3 linked regions of the Homo sapiens genome follow. The protein of the gene in region 1 interacts with the protein of each later gene in a pairwise test. Each region holds a gene or a part of one and is shown on either strand. Other genes may lie near its edges.

Region 1 (7,108 bases):
TTACCCAGTGCTTACTATAGACCAAGCTCCAAGGAGGGCACTGCATGTCCAGTCCCATTTTCTATCAAATGGCCTATGAGGTACAGTTACCCACCCCACTCTCCAGTTAGGAAAGTGGATCTTGGAAAGATTAAGTACCTTGACCAAAATGGCACAGCTGCTAAGTATGTTTCCTGCCTCTCTTTTTGTTTTACTCAGATATAATTTCCATACCATAAAATTCCCAGTTATAAAGTGTGTAGTTCAGTGGGTTTTCGTATATTCACAAGGTTGTGCGCCCAACCCCATTACCTAATTTCATCACTCCTCAAAGAAACTCATATCCTTCAGCAGTCGCTCCTATTCCCACTCCCTGCAGCCCTGCGCAGAAAAAGTCTCTGCTTTCTGTTTCTGTGAAGGTGCCTGTTCTGGACATTTCATAGAACTGGAATCACATGCTATGTGGCTATCTGTATCTGGCTTCTTTCACTTCACATGGCGTTTTCAAGGTTTCTCCATGTGGTAGGATGTATCAGTAGTTCATCCTACTGATGAATAACATTCATTGTAAGATAGATCACATTTTGTTTCTGGCTGAATAACATTCATTGTAAGATAGATCACATTTTGTTTCTCCATTCATCAGTGGATGGGCATGTGGATTTTTTCCGATTTTCGTCGTTGTGAATAATGTTGCTATGCACATTCATGTATACGTGTGTTTGTGTGGACAGCATGTGGACTGTTTCTACTTTTCACAGTTATGAATAATGTTGCTATGCACATTCATGTATACGTGTGTGTGGACATCTTCTTTCATTTCTCTTAGGGATTTCATTTCTCTTAGGGATTTCATTTCTTCTTTCATTTCTCTTAGGGATTTCTTTCATTTCTCCACCCAGGAGTGGAGCTGCTGGGTCCTACGGTAACTCTGTGCTTTACTTTTTTAGGAATTGCCAAACTGTTTTCCAAAGAGGCCGCACCATTTTACTTTCCCACCAGCAGCGTGTGAGGGTTCATCCTGTTGTGTTGACTCCAAAGCCCACACTCTCCCTCCAGGCTGTGCCTCCTACCCTGGCCAGCAGGTGCAGCAGCCCGAGACACGGAGCTGGCACGGGTGCCACCGCCTAGCACACAGCTGGCTGGCCTCAACTATCAGTCCTACCTTCAGCGCCTGCTCCTTAAAGTACTGCAGGGCATAAGCAAAGATTTCAAGGGCTTTGACTTTCTTGCCATTTGCTGCCGTCAGGTCTGTATCCATGGTGAGGTCCTGGTAGGAGGAAGAGGAACAATAGTAAGAAGATGACACAGGAGAAACATGTCTCCTGGCTTTGGGGACTGCTCCAAGGGGACCTAGAGGATCCTGGTGAGCCATGTCTGTGTTCCCCCATGCTTAAAGAGGCAGACTAGGATGGCGCATCCCCCAAAATGGGGGCTGGCAGCAGTGTCCCCTTACTGTGTAGGAGGCTCTGGCTGTCCCCTCCAGGCCCCACCTTCACTGCTCCCTCCTTCTCTCCCTCTAGCTCCTGGATCCTCTGGGAGCAAAGGTTTCAGGGGCAACAGTAGAAGTCAGGAAGAGAGAATAGGCAGCAGGTGCCACTCCCCATGCAATTTCCGTACAATTTCCACATTCGAACACACATGGTCACGCTCAGGATCCCCCCTGATGGAGGCCTAATCGTACCAACCCACTGCCATCCACGATGCTAAACAGACGAAGCTTTCATTCCCCATTACGCTGCCAACCAAGTCACCAAAATAGAAGAGCTCCTATTTTAAGGCTTGCCCTATCTAATCCGCCAGGAGCCCAGCATCACTGCTTTCCTCTCTCCACCAAAAGTGAAAGCAGCTGCTGAGTGTGGTCCCAGAGAGAGGATGCTCTGCAGAGCCTAGATGCTGGTGGACGGAGATCATTAAAAAATGATGAGAAAAGTCCCTGTGGGGTAGGGATGGGCAGGGAGTGAGAGCAAAAATCAGGAGGAAGCCCCCAGGTCTCCTGAACCAACAAACTCATTACTGCCAGGGGGAAAAAAATCACTGGGGCCTCCAGATTGTCCCAGGCTGGGTAATTATGCTTTGCCTTGGGAGTGAAAACGGGCATTGAGTTACTAAGCTAGCCATGTGGAGCCCGTCTGTGGCATCCTGACCTATCTGCACTTGCTCACTCCTCCCAGCCAGCTGCCTTCTGCTCCTGGTGCCCAACAAAGATACCCCAGCTTTAGGGCAGCAGCTCCCAGGCTCAGAAAGGTGGTCAAGTGCCAGGAAACCATGGCTCTGAATTGAAAAAAATCCCTGTGCTTCCTTCCACCTGCCATCCTGATACTCAGCATTGAATCCCATTAGGCAAAATAGGAACAGTTCATTTCTAGCAGAACTTGGTCTGCACCATAGAAGGACAACCACGCCGATGGGCACAGAGCCTTGAAAGGCAGGGTGCTGGCTGCTGAGTTTCCCACTTATGTTTGCTTTGTCATCTGCAAGTGCTCAGCAGACAAATGAAAGCAATTAGAATAGGAGCTTGCACTTGACTAGAACTTAATCTGCACCAGGCATGGCTCTAAGAGCTTTACGTATTTTGATTCCTTTAATCCCTACAAAATCCCCATGAGGAAGGCACTGCTATTGTCTCCATTTGACAGAGAAGATAAAACAAGGCAGGGAGGGGTTACATAACTTGGATTACATTTCTCAAAGGTACCAGTGACCAGATTGAAACCCAGGCCATCTGGCCCCAGAGTCCGTGTTCTTAAACATCATCATCATCCTGCCTTTCTAAGCACTGACAGTTAAGGAAACTTTATGGAATAAAATGCTTAACTCAAAAAAGTTCTGTCCTATGCCCTATCCTTTTCTACGAAGCTTCGGGGTGGCAGGGGGTGCCTGTTTGATGTAGGTGTCTTATGGAACACTGGCTTGCTGGGAGCTGAGGACACCACTCAGGGAGTTGGACCTCCAATTATTGGGCACTTGATGTCCTGAGCTCCCCCTCCCCACATAAAGAGCTGGATGTACCAGTTGTTACTGGTTGTTACATCCAAACTGGTTAGTTAAGAGCTACTGCCCTGAGCTCGCCATGTGTCCCTAGCCCCCAAGTGGATCCTTCATGATACACTGATCTCTCAATAATCCAGAAACTAAAGGGAGAACTCCTGGCACAGCAGGAGGGCCCCAGCACCCCACTTCCCTGGTATAACCAGGGTCTACTCTGATAGGTCCATTTCCAAGACAAACGAGTTGTTAAATATTCAGAATATCTCCCTGCCCACATGCACATTGGAAAGCATCGCATATTCCACAAAAGCACTGTGTGCTCCAGGTTGTGTCTAAAATCAAGGTAAATGGACACTGATTTCTGCTTGGAAGAGACCAGAGGGCCCCCTGGGTTGGGAGGACATCCCTTCCCCACCCCAAGGCTGGAGGAAGCTTGGCACTCCATTGCGGGGGACCTGGGCCCAGGGGAGAGGCTTGCTCACCCCAGTGGTGTGCAGCTTCATCTTGAACTTCTCCAGGTACAGCCACTGCTTGGCCTCATTGGGATCCAGGTCATGGTAAAAGTCCCTGGCGGCATACCCGAAGCTGTGGAACTTCCTCTCGGGAGTCAGCAAGATGGTGGTTGGAGTCTTCTGATTGGACACACCAGGGTCACCTCCCTCCCATCGCCTGCCACCAAGGGAAGCAGAAGTTATGGGGCCTTCTTTCAAAATCCCAATTCAGGCAGCACAGATTTGAACACCTACTGTATGCATGAGTGTCAGTAATGTGGGTGCCCAGAGGCACTCTGCTTCAGCTGGATGAGCAGCTACTAGAGACACAACTTCAGTTAAAAAGGAGATGAACTGGGCAAGTGCAAAGTTCTTGGTCAATAACAAGCTCTGCCTTAGTCTTTCATTCCATGTTTACTGAGCATCTACTCTAAGCATCTACATGTTTGCCAGGTGCTGGCATGAAACTTTTATGTCTGTGTCTTCAAATAATTCACAATCTGCTAGGCAATGTATTTTTTATTTGCAAGCACTCAATAGCAGATATACTGCTAGCTTGAATCCTGTCTGAAACAAGGTAGGTATAGACAAATGCATAATTACCTGCCTTATGAGATGCAAATGAGATGCCCAAGGTGCCAGCTGGTAGGGCAGAGGAAAGAATGCAGGATTCGGGGGAGAACTGAAGAAGAGACAGACAACTGGATCTCAAAGGAGGGAAGGATACTCCAGGCTGCTCAGAGGTGGGCCAGCCGGGGCATTCGTGGAGAATGTGAAGTGACTGCGTTGGTTGGAGAGAGTATGTGAGTGGGAAGAGTGACTGTGAAAATGGGAAGGGTGAGAAACACGATTGGGAAAGCAGCTGGAATCAGGCTGAGGAGAACCCTGGGGACTTAGACATTTACTCTGTGAATAATGGGAAGCCACTAAAGGTCTTAGAGCAGGGGTATGACAGAATCAGAGCTGCTGTTCATAAGGGCAAACTGGGCTAAATGGAGGGAAAGGGAAGCCAGGAGCCTCAGACCTATCCTGGAGCAGAGGTGAAAGAACCATAGAAACAGATCTCAGCACTCTGGGGGGCCAAGGTGGGAGGATTGCAGTGAGCTATGATCGCATCACTGCACTCCAGCCTGGGCAACACAGCAAGACCCTATCTCTAAAAAGAAATGACAGAGAGAGAGAGAGAGAGAGAGAGGCTGCAGTGAGAGCAAGGGAAGGGGGAAGGGGAAGACAGGAAACTCAATGTATTCGCTCACCTTTGGGGCCACTGCAGAGAGGCCAGGGCCACCAAGAGGCCAAGCTGTTCCCTGCCCAACCAGGTCCTGGCTCCTGGCCTGCCGCTGGCCATGTGACCCCATGCACAGCCCGTGCGCCCTCAGGTGGGGACGCAGTGCAGGAGGGAAAATGAGCCACTTTCCTCACCCACTGGAGAGGTGGCCACGCTCCCAGCTGATCCCGGACCTGCTCCCGACCCCATGACATTAAGCATCAGTAGGACCATCTCAGTCCAGATGGAGCTCCGGCCTCCACTGATATTTGCTGCTCAAATGGGTCTGGAATCATCCCTGGTCAATTTCCTTGTCAAGCTCCATCAGGATGCTGCTCCTACCCCAGCAGCCAAAGTCCCCGAGGTGACCGCACTGAGACACAGGGATGGCCCCGATGCCAGGCAGCTGCTCCACACACTGCCCTTCACAAATGGAATTGTCATTAACAGTGACATTATCAGTAGAGAATGACCCCATGAGCTTTTTCCCTTCAAATTTTTATTCCTTCATTCCCACTTAGTACAAAAAAAAGTTAACTTTCTCACTTATAACTTGTCATATTAGCATCATTATGCTAATATGTTCTGATTGAAATAAAATTCAGGTAGAACCAACCAACCTCCCTCCAAAATGTCGACCATTACTAAGGTATCTCCTCTAGAGGCCCTGAACTATGGTGGTGCTTCATAAGTACCCCTCCCCAAGCAAGTTCAAAGTTATTTCCACTCCTTCTTTTCTGTTTTCACTGCATGACTATTCTGTGGAAATAACATTTCTTAGAACAACTACATAGAAGCTGATAAACATTGATTCTAGCCTTTAATGGCATATTCTTTTCCACTGGGATTTTTCATCTTGGGGGTCAGTGGTGGCAGCACAGACCCTCACAGCATCTGTCTGGCTAAATGGAAAGAGATTCCTGGTGGCAACTGAACACCAAGGGCGATGCTGTCAACAGAGTTGGCTATAGAACCGGCTTTTCATCATTTCCTGATGACATGACACCCAGGAGTGTCTGTACCCTCTTAGGACAAGAGCTTCAGGCTGAGCCACATCTGGTTTTCAAGAGGAAAGGTGAGACTTAAACCAAGATTGGGGTGGGAGTCACTTTTATTATGACTTGTGCTTTACACAACCCTTTATAAAAATTCCTAAAATACAAACATTAGCAGGGTGTGGTGGTATGCACCTGTAGTCTCAGCCACTTGGGAGGCTAAGGCAGGAGGATCACTTCAGCCCAGGAGTTTGAGGCTGCAGAGAGCCATGATCACACCACTGCATTCCAGCCTGGGCAAAGGAACAAGAGCCTGTCTCTTAAAAAAAAAAAAATAACAACAACAACAAAACTAAAAAATATTAATCTAGGAGCAATACTAAATTCCACAATTACTCAGTTGAAGAAACTGCAAAGCCAATTACAATGTATCTTCAGAGTCATCCCTTGGAATTGAAAATTGGGATGATAAATTCTGGGCTTCCAAAGATTCGAGGAGTCATACCCTGCAAGAAGATCATGGATCAAGACTGGGATCCCATGGATGGGTGGCACCCGGGGCCTGCAGGGTGCTGGGTGTGCGGGGAAGGGAAGGGGGCATCCCAGCACAGAGTGCATCCCAGGAGGCCCAGGGCAACTTTGCCTATGGGGCCACTTGGCTGAGATTCCCCTCATGCTGCCTTCTCTCTGGCAGGTGCTTTTTGCCTCTGGCTACCAACACCCCAGCACTTCTCTTCACTTGAAAGGGCCAGCACCTGGAGAGGATGTGGAGAAATAGGAACACTTTTACACTGTTGGTGGGACTGTAAACTCGTTCAACCATTGTGGAAGTCAGTGTGGCGATTCCTCAGGGATCTAGAACTAGAAATGCCATTTGACCCAGCCATCCCATTACTGGGTATACCCAAAGGATTATAAATCATGCTGCTGTAAAGACACATGCACACGTATGTTTATAGCGGCACTATTCACAATAGCAAAGACTTGGAACCAATGTAAATGTCCAACAACGGTAGACTAGATTAAGAAAATGTGGCACATATACACCATGGAATACTATGCAGCCATAAAAAATGATGAGTTCATGTCCTTTGTAGGGACATGGATGAAACTGGAAACCATCATTCTCAGCAAACTATCGCAAGGACAAAAAACCAAACACCGCATGTTCTCACTCATAGGTGGGAATTGAACAATGAGAACACATGGACACAGGAAGGGGAACATCACACACCAGGGACTGTTGTGGGGTGGGGGGAGTGGGGAGGGATAGCATTAGGAGATATACCTAATGCTAAATGACGAGTTAATGGGTGCAGCACACCAACATGGCACATGTATACATATGTAACAAACCTGCACGTTGTGCACATGTACCCTAAAAC
Region 2 (7,108 bases), on another chromosome or scaffold:
CTGCATAGTGTGCTCACTGACCTCCCTCCCCTGTCTTGATTGACACATTCAAATGTTCTTTTAGTGTGGCCTTTCCTATTCACACTATTCACAATTATACCCCTAGCTCCACATGTCTTTCTGCTGATTTGTTTTTTGCATGCCCTAAACACATATAAACACAGTCATATGTATTAATAGATATATATGAGTTTGAGTCCTCTAGGGAGCAAAGGCTAAGACAGAATTAGAAGTGCAAGAGGTGGCCGGGCGCAGTGGCTCACGCCTGTAATCCCAGCACTTTGGGAGGCCGAGGCGGGTGGATCACGAGGTCGGGAGATTGAGACCATTCTGGCTAGTACGGCAAAACCCCATCTCTACTAAAAATACAAAAAAAAAAGTAGCCGGGTGTGGTGGCGGGCGCCTGTAGTCCCAGCTACTCGGGAAGCTGAGGCAGGAGAATGGCGTGAACCCGGGAGGCAGAGCTTGCAGTGAGCCGAGATCGCGCCACTGCACTCCAGCCTGGGCAACAAAGCGAGACTCCGTCTCAAAAAAAAAAGAAGTGCAAGAGGTCTATTTGGGAAAATGTCCATGGAAGAAAAAAGGGAGAGGAAGCAAGGAAGCCTGAAGGAGGGAAGACCTTCAGACCACAATGCTGGTCTGACATCTGTAACAGGAAGTGGGGGAGGGAAGGAGGAGTGAGTAGAAGAAGCCTCAGACTACAGTATAGTATAGCTCTGGGATAGTCTCAGCCAGGTCAACCAGGAGCCCAGAGTACAGTCTACACAGGAGGAGTTCTGCATTAGGCACGTGTGACTTCTGGGACCTTTGCTGTGCCCAGTCACTGGAGCACCCCAAGGAGCATGGCCTCACGTGAACTCTGCAGTGGAGCCTTAGAGAAGGAGAAGCAGATGGAGGCTGTGGGTTAACACTCCTTACAGCAGGTTCGCCCTTGAAGGTAGATCTGAGTCCTCTGTGTGTGTGTGTGTGTGTGTATATATACATATGTTTACATGCAGATATAATGAAATTATGCTTAATAATGTATTATTAATTTTATCTTATTTATATCCTCATCTAAAATATAAGCTCCATTACCACAGAGATTTTTGACTATTTTGTTTTAGAACAATGTCTGGCACACAGTAGGCACTCAAAAATATCTGTTGAATGAATGAGTAAATGAATGAAAGAGTAGAAATGCCTTGAAATCTAATGGTATTATTTTAATATAGGAAAAAAGAGTCTCCAAGCCATCTAACCAGCTAACTCTGGCTAATGTACCCAATGAGCTAGAAGACTGGGCCTGGATGAATTTGTGTTCTGATCAAGGACATTGAACACTCAAGTAGGGAAAAGAGCACCATTAAACAACACAAGATAGAGGAGGGGCTTTTGTTAAATTTTAGTGGAAATATTCTACTTTACCAGGAGGTGCAATAAATCAACACACCTATCATTTCAGAATCATCTTAGGTAGTCATCAGAAAGGAATTGTCTTCCTGCGGTATATGCCTGAAGGTAATAATGTATTTCAGGCATGTGACCTGATTGTGTCTGCCTCTTAAGTATCTCTTTGGTTTTACAATTCAACTTCGAAGCTTACCTATAGTCTAATTTTATTATGCTCTTCTAGTATCCTTATGACATTGTCCTTCCTTATCTTATTTCCTAGGCCCTAGGCTTGTGTCACCAACGTGAGAAGCTCACATTGTTGAATGGGCAACTTTGTAGCAGGGACTAATGGAAAGAAAGAGACCTAGGTTGGAAGTTAAGGTAGAACCTGTTATCTACGCCCAGTTCTGTTACCAACAGGGGGTTGAAAAGTTACTTTACTCATCAAGTATCAGTTTCCTAATAGGAAGACAGAGCTATTCAGCACTTGCTCCTCCTAACATTTTCTCCCAGAAGAAATGGGCAAAATAAACAACTAACTTAAGGTGTATCTTCCTACATGGTAGATATTTAAAGTGATTTTTATGGATCTTAAACACAAATGACAGTGTATTTGATTAGTCAACATCTTCAGCAATTAAGGGGTGTCCTATTCTAGAAGGTGTAACCAGGAATAGTTTCAGCTCTGAAGAGAGGAAGGACATAAATAAATATTTTTATTCTATCAGTAATGAAGCAGAGAATCCCAGTAAATACCTTTGTGAGGAAATTCAGCTGACTGTTACAAAGTGCTTCAAACATGGCCATTTAGTTGATCGGAAATAGAGCAAATAATACCACATACTTGTAATGGGGCTATTGTTGTCATCGCCTGGGGTCCATGACAGCTGAACACTTTTGTCAAGTTGATCTGTCAGTTCTAAGTCAAAGGGAGGATTTGGGACATCTGTAGACCAAACATACACACATCATGGTCACGCATCCATCTTTAAGAGGCTCTCCTTTACTCGTGATACTATTCACAGAGGGGACATCTTAAAGACACAGCACACTTGATAGTCAATGAGCATGCAACTGAAAGGAAATGTGCACAGCTGAGGCTGCTGGGAACACACGAACACACACAAGATAACCCATCAATGAGTTCTGCTCACTTGTTTTTCAAAGGAAACGAAAGCATTTGTAACCAAACCCAGTGAAGCAGACACATGTGGTTCATCAGCACTCTCAGCGTTTCTTCTCATAAACATGAATGGGCACAAACATGAAAAATAATAAGCTTAATTTCTAATACATGGGAAATAGAGAAAGCAACTGCTGAAAAAAGAAATACAGGCAAATAAAAGGTGCTGTTTAAAGAAAATTCAAATGTTCTTTCTAAAAAAAATGCTGAATAACAGATTTTGGGGCTCTGAAAGAATATTTATATTTGCGAAAGAATGCTGAAATAGATGCTATGGAGGTAGCCCTCAGCATGCATAAGTGTGTTTACTCCCAGAGGACAACAGTGTATAGACAGACACATGTCGAGATGAAGGTGTCCTAGAAGCATGTCTGCCTCTTCTAATGGTGCTTCTGAGATCCAGAGAGTTACTGTTCCCCCCAGGCCTTTATTTGACCTTGCTCCTAGGAGTATCTCTGGCTCTTAGGGGACCAGAGACCATACAAATATATGTGCTTTTTTTTCTTATCAGTCATAAAGCAGTAAATGTCTACAAAGCACAGGTTTTATATTGGATAATTAGACACAATATTAATAATATTGTGCAAAATCAGCTGAGATGCCAAAAATTGATTTTTGTATTGACGTACTGAATAAAGATGAAGGTTCTCTAAATAAAAAGATTTCTGGAAATGATTTCTGACTTATTTTCCAGATTCTAAAAAGCCACACAACATAAATGTGCCCCTCCTTTTGGTCTTTCTTGAGTGATTTGTCTTTTGTTAACACATGGTGAGTCGGTTTTCTCTGATATAAAAGTTAAATGTTGTTCTAAACATCTATTTTTCCCCATATACATTTCTTGAAAATGGAATCCCAAAACAAGATTTTTCCCAAACAACTTTTAATAAATTGAGATGAAAGCCTAATTTGTAGAATGATATTAGAAATAGCTTTTTCATTCTGTAAAATGTGGATGATGGCTTTTGAAAAAGCACTATGCTACTTTAAAAGGAAATTGCATCAAAGAGGGACTTTTATCAAACGAAGTGATTTTATAATAGCACATGAACTATTTAGAAAGAACTGGCAACGAACTTGGTGAAAAATCTGTGGTTATGATGAAGAAATGATTCATTGTCAGTAAATGGGTGACACAACATAACAACTGACAGAGACCTTTTCCTTAAGAAACACAATTATGTGACATAGAAAAGAAAGTTATGAATACTTTCTGCAAATGTGAAATTGTTTGACAGAAAACAGAGAAAGAAGACTCATATTAGTTTACCGTAAACGGGAGCTGGAGTTGGAGTAGGAGCTAGAAAGGACATTAATATAAAGGATTTTAATCAAAATTAGTAATGGAAAGATACAAGATAGCACAAGATGACAAAGACTGTACATTATTCAAGGTTATAAAATTAAGCCCTATGCTTAGCTGTGAGACACAGCATTGATAAACATGCAGTAACAATTTAGGAAAAAAAACCTTCAATTTTAGATACAAGTAGATCATTTCTCCTTATTTTATTACAAAAAAGGTTACTAATGTGCATATCCACCATTTCACCCAGTGCTGCTACACAGTCTATTTATACTGAAATTATTGCCTCCAAGGCATCTTTCAAAGAAGAAAAACATGGGTATGAACTCACCCATGCATATTAACAAGCAAATATTTGATATTTATAATTTTTATCTTATTTTTTCTTTTCAACCAAATGCAGGGAAGCCAGTTGTGCTATTTTTGTTTTCGTTCTTACCAACAACGCTAAGCACAGCGCTGGCGGAGACGCTGTCCAGAGTGGTGTTGGCCACACACGTGTAGGTCCCGCTGTCATCGTCACTGACATCAGCTACCACTAGATGATCCTTGTCAACAGTGAACCTGTGGATAGAATGCATTCAGAGCAGCTGAAATGGACATGCAGCCGTACCCTATAATTGCTTCACTGGCAGGAAAAAAACTGTAAATTTGATAAAGGAGAAAGATGGTAAACACTTTCAAAAGTTAGAGCAAAATACATATCACTTTAAGAATGATTAAAGTTGAAAAACAATGAGAATCAATTAGAATATTGGGTTAGAAGGGATATGTCCTCTGGCACAGTATTTTTCAACCAGGCCTCTAGAGCACGGGTCCCCAAACCCTGGGCCAAGAACTGGGTACTGTCCTGTTAGGAACTGGGCTGCAGAGGGGACCGCTGCTCTAGAGGGTGTGGTAGGAGTTTCCTTAGGCCCCAGGGGAATGGGGCGAGTGAAGCTGAGCTCCGCCTCCTGTCAGATTAGTGGCAGCATTAGATTCTCACAGGAAGGTGAACCCTATTGTGAACTGTGCAAGTGAGAGATCTAGATCTAGACTGTGCTCTCCTATGACAATCTAATGCCTGATGATCTGTCACTGTATATATTACATGTAATAATATATATATGTATATACATATTACAACATAATAATAATAGAAATAAAGTGCACAGTAAATGTAATGTGCTTGAATCATCCTGAAGCCATTGTGCCCCCACCCTGTCCGTGGAAAAACTGTCTTCCATGAAACCAGTCCCTGGTGCCAAAAAGGTTGGGGACCACTGCTCTAGAGGGAGAGGAAGGAGCTTCCTTAAGTTCCCAGGGGAAGGAGGCGAAGAATAGTTCCAGCATTAGCCTTACTAAAGGGCTTTACTAAGGCTTTTGCTGCCAAGAAACATTGGAAAACCACTCATTCAGTTCAATTTCTATCAAAGTATATATTTTAAATACTTTATTATTTACTGCAGAAAATCATGTCATTTTCTTACATGTATAAACTCTCATAGGAGAAATTAAATGCAAAGAATAATAATTTGCTTTATCACTAGAAACAGGAAGATTTAGATGAACAATCTCTCTAAGACTTTTCTAGAGGGAACTTGTGGGCATGAAAAATTGCTCAGTAGATCAAAAAATTAATGTATAGAGAATTAGTGTATTATTTTAATGAAACTGCCTAAGTCATAAACTGTCTTCTCAGTTAATTTCCAAGTAAAAGCTTCAGCCACCTTAACCTGATGGTCATTTCTTTATGTTTCCTTTTAATCTTAAAGACAGGGTCTCACTCTGTCACCCAGGCTGGAGTGCAGTGGTACAGTCATGGCTCACTGGAGTCTCAACCTTCTGGGCCCAGGTAATTCTCCCACCTCAGCCTCCCAGGTAGCTGGGACCACAGGTGTGAGACCACCACACCTTTTCATCTTTATCAACTCAACAAATAAAATTGACTAGTTCAAGCATAAAATTAGATGGAGACTCTAGGCACATAAAAGAGAAGGCCACAGAGTTCTTCCAGGGTCATTGACAAGCAACAGGGCAATATTTAGGCACCACAATTTTAGGTCAGCTGTAGGTGAACCACACAAATGATTTCGACCAGAATACAGCATTCCTTCTAATAGAGAGTGAGGCCTATAGCCACTTTGCTAAAACTAACACATATCTACTCTGTACTACTATGTCAAATTGAGGGTCTCATCTGGAAAATGCCATGACCTTTCTTCCATTCTTAATGAAATCTGCAGCATGCTTGGGCTCTTTTAAATGCTCTACCTGTTTTTGTTTTTCCTTCCCCTTTCACTGGCTTTAGGTAAAATCAAAAGAAAAACTCCCTATCCAAATAAAAACGAGTGTCTTAAAATACTGACAAGGATTTGAGCAGTCTTTGGTGATTAAAGAGGTCATATTTCTGCTTATTTGTAGAAAGGTAATGAAAACATCTGTTGAGACTTCGCTGTTCAAGGTATAAAACAATGGATGCTGTCCAGGCCTGAGGGTTTTTTCCCATCCTGAATTACACAAGAGACCAGCACGCAAAGATAGACAAACATTCTCAGGGTCCTATTTCAATCACCTGATACCTTCTTGGGTGCATATATTTTACAGTAGGGAGAAAATGCTTATCTCTCTATTTTGGAGACAGCAGACTTCAGAAACTAAAAACATCACCATAATTGACTACATAGTAGACCTTTAGTTCAAGAATAGCTTAAAGAAAGAATGAAGAGAAAGTAAAGAAATCGTCTTCAAATACCTTTCATCACTGGGCAGTTCCCTGTTGTCCTTCAGCCACAGGACAGTGAGGGATAAGGTGTGATCATGTTTCACTTTGCATTCAAAGGACACCATGCTCCCTCTTTGCACAACTGCATATTCGGGCTGTTTAACGATCCATGTAGGATCTGAAATGTAGAGTCATCGTTATCCATTTGGCAAAGCTGGAGAATTTGTTCAAAGTCATTTAAAAATTAAACACATTACCTCTGCCTTACCTTTGATTTCTAAGTGAACTTCATTCTTCGCCATCCCTAATTTATTCCTTGCAACACACGTATAAGTTCCTGTACTGTCCTTTTGGGCCACAGGAATTTCCAAAGTTCCATTTTCATGTAAAACATAAATATCTTCATGAAGAGCACTTCCTTTAGCTCCTTTAAACCTTCATTACAGAAATTATCACAATGAGAATAAAAACACATTATATTTTGAAGTCAGACATAAAATGCCATGTTCAAGGTCAACATGACCATGATGAATGTGAAAGT
Region 3 (8,011 bases), on another chromosome or scaffold:
GACTGATTCTAGGATAAGGGTAAGAGAACCACAAAACTTTTTAAAAATATACATTTGAGGCATACAAGATATTTTGATTGATACACATATACATAGTGAAGTGATTACTTCAGTCAAGCAAATTAACATATTCATCATCTCATGTAGTTATTTTTTTTTTGGTGGTAAGAGTACCTAAAATCTACTCTCCTGGCAAAGTACCAGTATACAATACAATATTAACTATAGTCCTTATGTTACACACTAGAACATTAGAATCTAACCGCAACTTCGTACCTTTTGACCTACATCTTCCCATTTCCCCTACCCCGCCCCTGGTAACCATCTTCCTACACTGTTTCTATGGTGATTTTTTTCAAGACTCCACATACAACCGATATCATATCATATTTTTCTTTCTGTGTGTGTCTTATTTCACTCAGCATGATGTCCTCCAGGTCCATTCATGCTGAATGCTACAAGATAAAATCGGAACATCTTATGTGCCTGAAAGTAAAGAATTCCTCAAAAAATCATATGGACATGTCAAAAGGATAAAGGAGGCACCACTAAAAGGCTCCCACTGGCTGCTCAACAGAGGCCCACACCCTCCCGCAACTTCTCGGCCTCATCAGTGGGTGGACTGCATGTTCCTGTGGTAGGAAACACACCCTCCCCTCAGAGATCTGAATCTCTAATCTTGCAGGTGGGGAAGGGAGCATTTCCTTTAACTTAAGTAACTCCTTTATTAACTCTTCTTCAGCCCTAGAAGTAACAGCTCCTTTTCGTAGCTGCTTCTTCTGTATCATAGAGTCCTCTTTTAGTAACTGATCATCTTTTACTAGAAAATAATTCTTTAAATTTTTCCTGTTAAAATCGCCAATATGATATCTGTTTCTGAATGGACCCTGATTGATATAAAAACGTATCACTTCCCTTGCATTTCTATCCAAAAAAAATGCAAACTTAAATATAATCATGAGGAAATGATAGCCGCAGGAGGCAGACAAATGCCTAGGCAGATCCCCAGTGAAACCCCATCTCCAAGCTGAAGACAGTTTAAAGCCTGAAAGCCAAGCTACAAGTCAAATCCATGGACCGGATTAAAAACCTGTCTTCCCATTTGGCACATTTTTCTTTGATTGATCCCCACCTTTCACCCATTTTATATACACCTACCCTTTCCTAATTGGTTTTCTACACTGTCGTGCCCACCTTTGAGTGGTGTCTTCACTTTAACTGTTTTTGCATACTCACAAACCAATCAGCACACACTTTCCATTCTGAATCCATAAATGCCCAGACCTAGCCACATTGGGTGAGAAACCACCTGACTGCAGGGGTGGGGGACCACCTCCACCTACCACATCCCCTCTCCGCTGAGAGCTGTTCCATCGCTCAATAAAATTCTTCTCCATCCTTCTCATCCTTCAAATTGTCAGCATATCCTCATTCTTCTTGGATGTGGGACAAGAGTTCAGGAACCACCGAATGCAGATACAAACTATAACACAGGCAGCAGGTCAAGTGAGGCCTGGGGGTTTTGCGGGGGGGGGGTGTCACTAGCTATGGACGGGTCCCTGGTTGGCAAAGTGACCGAGAAAAATCCTACATCAGATATATCAAACAAAACCAAAATGAAAGACATTCTACAAAACAAGTGGCCAGTACCTATCAAAATTTCAAAGTCAAGTAAGATCAATGACAACTAATTACAATGTGTGACTCTGGCTTGGCTCCTGTGATTGTTGGGAAATCGGAAGTAACTATACATAGCATCTATTGAAACGTGATAAAATTTTGAATACAGACTATGGATTTGGTAATATTGTATTAATACTGTAGTTCCTGATTTTGATGAGAGGATGTCCTTGTTTCTAGGAAATACACACTGATATATTTAATGGTAATGGAAGTTTACTCTCAACCTGTTCAAAATAAACTAATGTATATGGAGGGGAAAAAGATGAATTTAGGTAAAATGTGTACCAGAGTTCTTTGTATTATCCTTGCATCTTCTCTATAAATGATAAATATATTAAAATTGAAAGTTACCAAAAACTATATTTAGTCCTTGAAATATGGAAAACATGATCATTTTGAAAAGCATCTGAGCCGGGCTCAGTGGCTCACACCTGTAATCCCAGCATTTTGGGAGGCTGAGGCAGGCAGATTATTTGAGTTTAGGAGTTCAAGACAAGCCTGGGCAAAAATGTGAGACCCTGTCTCTACAAAAAATACAAAGATTAGCTGGGCATGGTGGCTTGCGCCTGTGGTCCCAGCTACTTGGGAAGCTGAGGTTCTAGGACTGTTAATTACCTTCCTCTCTTATGATTATACAGAACAGGAGGCATCCTTCCCATTTGATTTCAGACCAACAATCCTAGAACTGCTTTCTAAACAAGGTGAACAATTTACCTTGTGTGAGAGAAGGCAGTGTGGGTGTAGGTTTATTGTGGGGAGTGTGCTTGTTAATAATGAGGCTAAGAAAGGAGGCAGGCCAGAAATGCAAACAAACAAACAAAAAAAAATTCTGCTCATTTCAATTTTTGCCCCAGCAAGAACCTTGAGCTCAGTTCTCAGAGGTGAGAATTCTAACACAGAAAGCACCCAGAAAGGGCACTGAGGTCTGAGAAGCAAGGAAGTGACCCAGGTTGTTTGCCTCTGGTCGGAAAGGGAAACTACCCCTGCTTCCACTCTGACAGCAGACAAGTTAATCAACCTACTCAATTGCATTTTTGGCCCATTCCCCATTTCCAACATGAACAGTTCCTCCCCTCCAGCCCAATGCCACTCTAGGCAGTCACCAAGAGGTAAGATTTCTGAAATCAAAACTTGAATTAACCAACAAAGGAACATCAATTCTAGAACGGATTGTAACAGGGATTTTTGTCTTTTTTCTCTGCTGTATCCCCAAGATCTATATTATATATTCTGTGGTTTTGGCACATAGTAATTGCTCAGTAAAGCTGTGTTGAGTTACTTGATAAAAAATAAGTCAGTAGAAATAACTTAAATGCTCAACATTAATGTCATTGGTTAAGTAGCAATGCATAGAACTAAATATTATGCTATTAAAAAGTTTATTTGTAAAGTCAAGGATATGGAAAAATATTTGATACATACATATCTTTTTGAGATAGGTTCTCACTCTATCACCAAGGCTGGAGGGTAGTGGCAAGACCATAGCTCACTGCAGCCTCCAACTCCCAGGCTCAAGCAATCTTCCAGCCTCAGGCTCCCAAGCAGCTGGGACTACAGGTGTGCACCACCAAGCCCAGCTGATTTTTTTTTTTGAAAGAAGGGGTCTCACTATGTTGCCCAGGCTAGTCTTGAATTCCTGACCTCAAGTGATCCTTCTGCCCCGGAATCCCAAAGTGCTGGGATTACGGGCATGAGCCACAGTGTGGGACTGATACATTTTTGAAAAAAGGAAACAACATATATTCATGAAGGAAATACACACCCTCCTGGTGAGTTTATGTATGATTTTTGTTTTGTTGTTTTCTGTGTTATCTGATCACAAATTACTTTCATTTTCAGGAAGAAAAAAATTTAATTTTTTTTTTTATTGGGGCAACATCCAACCCAGATATGATTACTACCTAGCCTGAACTGAATGTATTACTAATAAACAAAGAAATGCAGAATGGCATACAGTCGGTAAAGCGTAGTGCTTGAGAGCATGGATTATGGAGACTATTTAAATACTGGCTCCATAACTTAATAGCTTGGGACCCACGGTGTTACTTAGCTTCTATCTGCTTTAATTTACTCATCTGTAAACTTGGGATAAGATACTTCCTCATAAGGTTGGTGTGAAGACCAAGTGAATTAACTATCGTTTAAAGCACTTACAAAAGTGCCGGGCACCACCGAGATATGCATCCGTTAGCTTTTATTATTATTAGACTCAAAACACTGTAGTAGTTCTAATGAGAGGGGTAAGAATCAAAAATCCAGGCACCTGCATAGAGCCAGAGAGGCACACATAGAAGCAACGTAAGAGTGGAAGCGGAATGAAAACATGCTAAAGCCAGGTACAAGCCACAAGCGAGGGTCCACAGGAAGAAATTGTTAATTCTGAAGAGAGTGAATGCACGAAGTTACAGGAAAAATAACATCTGAACAGAGTTTAAGAATGAGCAGGACTTCAACAAGTGGCTAGTAAGACATAAGGAACCTACAAAAGATCTTAGCAAAGGCGCAAAGATTACCATCGTATTGCTCGTTTCTTCCTACTTTGCAGAAGTAACCTCTGGCGAACAGAGGTGGTTGCAGAGCATGCTTATCAAGCAAAATACCACGAAGCAGTAAGGAACGACAGAGATAACAGTAACAATAATAATTCACCCCAAGGTACTCAACTGGAAAAAGGAAATACAGAGGAGAGGTGTCGTTAAGAAAGCCAGGACGCACATCACGGCCCCGTCGCTGCACTACTCTCGTCTAGGGGTCAACAGTGGAGTCGAGACTCGAAGCTTCCACGCGGCGGAACAGCGTCCCTCTCAGGCGGCGAACGGGCTAGGGAAGCGCCCGGAGGAGACCTAGCGTGAGAACTACAACTCCCGCGGAGCCCGAGGGCGAGCTGCCTGCGTAACTTCCGCTTCCGCCACCTGCCCCTCTCACCCTCTTCACTCGAACCCTACCCGGGAGCGGTCAGGCGCGTGACCCCGCGTGACCGGGGTGCGCGAGCCGAGAGGCCCTGGAAGCGGGACTCTGGGACCCCATTGAAAGAAAGGCAACCAGAAAAGGCGAAACGACAACCTCGATAGTGATTGGAGCTGATGGAACGAGGGCGGAGCTAAAGTCCCAGAATACTGGCCAATCAGAGTTTAAGATTATCAGGGAGCCCGGGAAGGGGAAAGGGGCGAAATGGTTCTATGGTCACATGCCGCGGGGTCTGGTGGGAGGAGCGGTTGCCCAGCGGCCTCTTGGCGCTTCCTGTTTCCGGTTCCCAGAGTGGGGCACAGCGAGGCGCTAGGGGGAACGCTGGCCTCTGAAACTAGCTCTGGGACCGGGGTCTGCGGCCGGCCCCTAGCTGGCCCCGTCTCCCATCCCCAGAAGGGTATTCACTGGGGATTCTGAGCTTTGGCTACTCCAGTTTCCCACGACACGTGAGTGTGAGGGGCGTGGAGGAGGAGGCGGGCTGGGTTGCGCTCACACTTAAGCGTCTGTGACAGGAGCCGGAATCGCATTCTCCCTTGACCATGGTTCTAGCCAAAGATCTGGCTGAGGAGCCCTAAGGGTAGAATGGAGGCGGAGGCATGAGAGCGGAGAGTCACGGAGTTCCGAAAGGTGTGAGGGAGAAAGGACTTCCAAGACCAGAGAGGGGATTTACGATATTTAGAAAGCAGGGAAAGGAAAATACCCCAAGTATGGAGTCCGTTGGAGGTGTTGGTGGATTTATTTGTAGGAGGAATTTTGGCCTGCATCACGGTGGGAGGTCAAGTGGCATCATTTGGAGAGGGTATGGCTACAAGCGCTTGGAAAGTCGGGACACTAGACAGAGCGAGAATTTCTGGCACCCTGGGAGAGCTTTGAGGGGGATGCGACTGTGGTGTGGATAAGAATGGCTGATGGACGGATTATCTTGTGTTCCTCGTTGTGGGGAGCTTCCGCTCTTGGGACATAGCCGCTACTTGTCTGAGGCTCCTTCTCTCTTGAGTTCTTTCAGCATTAGGCCTTTTAGCCAATTGAGGCTGCTTTTCTAAACATGTAGGCTGCTGGAGAAAAAGGGATAAGGACTGCTACATCAGAAAGGAGCCAGCGGGAAGACAGTAGAAATTCCACTGGTAAATGGCCATGGCTGTCTTAACAGATGGGGAAGTGAGTGCTACAGAGGCCCAGTGGTGTAAGCTGCTTCCCAGTTGCTGGCTTAGTCATTGGCCACCCTAATAAAGGATAATTTTTAGCATTGCCAAATAAAATAGATCTGTCGTTAGAGAATAAGAAAACTGAAAGATTTTTCAAGATCATAAAATCCTGCTCCTTATTTCCAAAGTATATAGACAAACTCTTGTACCTTGAGAATCTAATTGTAGCATATTAAAAGGGGGCTACTGGGCCCTTCCATTTCATTCTCTTCCTGATTGTTGCACCCCTATGTTTATAAGTTTTCCAGCAGTTATCTTTATGCCACGAATCGTCTAAATTGCCCCAGTAACTTCACACACATTTAATATCTGTGTAATGTACAGCAAGTAATTTAACAAGTAATTCTGTAAAGCATCAGTTTTCTCATCTGTGAAGTATGAAAAATTATACCTATTTTCTGGGTTGTGAAGATGAATGAACATAATCTAGGGAAAACATTTAGCGCATATGCCACTGAATTAAAGAGAAGCAGCTTAAATTTAAAGACAAGCCTTAAGCAGGAAAGAAGAATACAGTATAAATTTATTATCCTAACTTTTTGAATAATAAGCAAATGAAAGATAGTTCAACTCAGCTAATGGCTGAGGTGTTTAACCTTTCATCCCTTCCTAATTTTGTGAGATTCCTTGTTCTAATTTAGGAAAAGAAATCAACTGTCAGTTTTTAATTAGGTCCTGAGAGACTGGAAAGGAAAATGGCAGGCTAAGTCAGTCTAGAAGAAGGAGTCTCCTATTTCTTTTTAGTGAGTCAGCTGGTCAAGTTGTGTGTTGAGCAGTGGGTTAACTTAGGGAAGGTGGGAGTTGGAGGTCTGAGTTCTTTATTTCACCTCCTATTCAGTCAACTGTGTGAGGAATCACTTCCCCTTCACTTCTTAGTAGAAAAAAAAAAAAACCCACAGTTTTGGCTGTCTACTCTCATCTCCAAAAAATTGTTATGCACATAGTGGAAATATACATGTAGTTGTTCAACACAGACCATGAGCTCTGGAGCTAGACTCTCTGGCTCACTCCACTAGCTGTGTCTCAGTTTTCTTACTGGTAAAATAGCAACAATAATTGTATTTACTCATAAGGTTGTGAGGATTAATTAGTTAATTAATATATGTTAAGTGCTTTGAACAGCACCTGGCCCAAGGCAGTAGTCTGTTGTTTCCTGCTGTTGTGTGGTTTCAGTGCATTAAATGTGTTATGAGGGCCTTGGACCTCTTGGTTAGCTATGATTATTCTATGGAAACTACCATAATATTACAGTAGAGAATTGATGTTTGGGGTACAGGAAGTCAGGTAGACAATTTCCCGGGATTTTTTGCTTTAGTGGGGTGTGGGAAGTGGAAGGTCAGATGTTAGGTTGTTTAGGGGAATGGGGAAAGTGCATTCACGGCCAAGGTTGGAGCTTCCATTTTCCCATCTTCAAACTCATTAGTACCCATGAAAATTCTGCCTGTTTCAAGTTTTATATTTTAAAAATGAGGTGGAGTAAGTGGACCCGCATGAAAAAGAACTAGAGAACTTTAAAGAATATTCAAACCAAAGTCCAGACTTGCAGCGTTTTTTGTAAGTGAGAAAAGTTTAGAAGAGTTAAATCAGGAAATTGTCCGTGATACTCTTGGAATAAACAAGTAGCAATGGCCTGAGGGATCATTAACAGATACCAGAGTAAAGTGTTTTGCAAGGGTAAGTCAGTCTGTCCTGGGTATGAAGATGGATAAGAGAAAAGAAAATGTTAGGTTTTGGTGGGGTTTTTTTGCCAAAACCACAATGACCTTTGCACCAGTCTAGTAAGTTTGGGAAAGAGAGCTGTCTGTGTGTTTTCATTCCTAGAGCAGTACAAGCAGCAGGTGCATTGAATTTACTCAATTGTAAAGTGGCTTGGTGATCCCCAATTTGTTGTCATTGATTTGTAGTGTAAAAGACAACTGTACTTATGGGAAGTCTAGAAACCCTTGAGATTTGTGACCTGTAGAGGCCAAAGAGGTTTCAGAAGACTACATCAAGCCATCAAACAGTAAAGAGGCAAGGATGGCTCCACCCAAGCTGTCATCATTCTTTTTTAAGTTCTTTCATTTCCCTCTTCCCAACTTTGTAGTTTGTTCTGAAAGACTCACCTATACATTAGACTACAAGTTACATATAAATGAATTTTCTGCTGCAGATGC

Evidence for each region.
Region 2: the proteins of HSPA12A (region 1) and NRCAM interact in a two-hybrid assay, tested with the Homo sapiens proteins (one study listed by BioGRID and IntAct).
Region 3: the proteins of HSPA12A (region 1) and M6PR interact in a two-hybrid assay, tested with the Homo sapiens proteins (one study listed by BioGRID and IntAct).

Annotation. Positions count from the first base shown.
Region 1 is NC_000010.11:116,697,491-116,704,598, forward strand, and holds part of HSPA12A (heat shock 70 kDa protein 12A), read right to left. Parts: intron 3,640-7,108; coding exon 3,453-3,639; intron 1,250-3,452; coding exon 1,145-1,249; intron 1-1,144. UniProt on the Homo sapiens protein: Adapter protein for SORL1, but not SORT1. Delays SORL1 internalization and affects SORL1 subcellular localization.
Region 2 is NC_000007.14:108,187,427-108,194,534, forward strand, and holds part of NRCAM (neuronal cell adhesion molecule isoform A precursor), read right to left. Parts: intron 7,003-7,108; coding exon 6,836-7,002; intron 6,746-6,835; coding exon 6,598-6,745; intron 4,428-6,597; coding exon 4,303-4,427; intron 3,858-4,302; coding exon 3,828-3,857; intron 2,321-3,827; coding exon 2,219-2,320; intron 1-2,218. UniProt on the Homo sapiens protein: Cell adhesion protein that is required for normal responses to cell-cell contacts in brain and in the peripheral nervous system. Plays a role in neurite outgrowth in response to contactin binding.
Region 3 is NC_000012.12:8,946,573-8,954,583, reverse strand, and holds the start of M6PR (cation-dependent mannose-6-phosphate receptor isoform 1 precursor), read left to right. Parts: upstream 1-4,938; 5' UTR 4,939-5,096; exon of another isoform or gene 5,097-7,529; intron 7,530-7,759; exon of another isoform or gene 7,760-7,868; intron 7,869-8,011. UniProt on the Homo sapiens protein: Transport of phosphorylated lysosomal enzymes from the Golgi complex and the cell surface to lysosomes.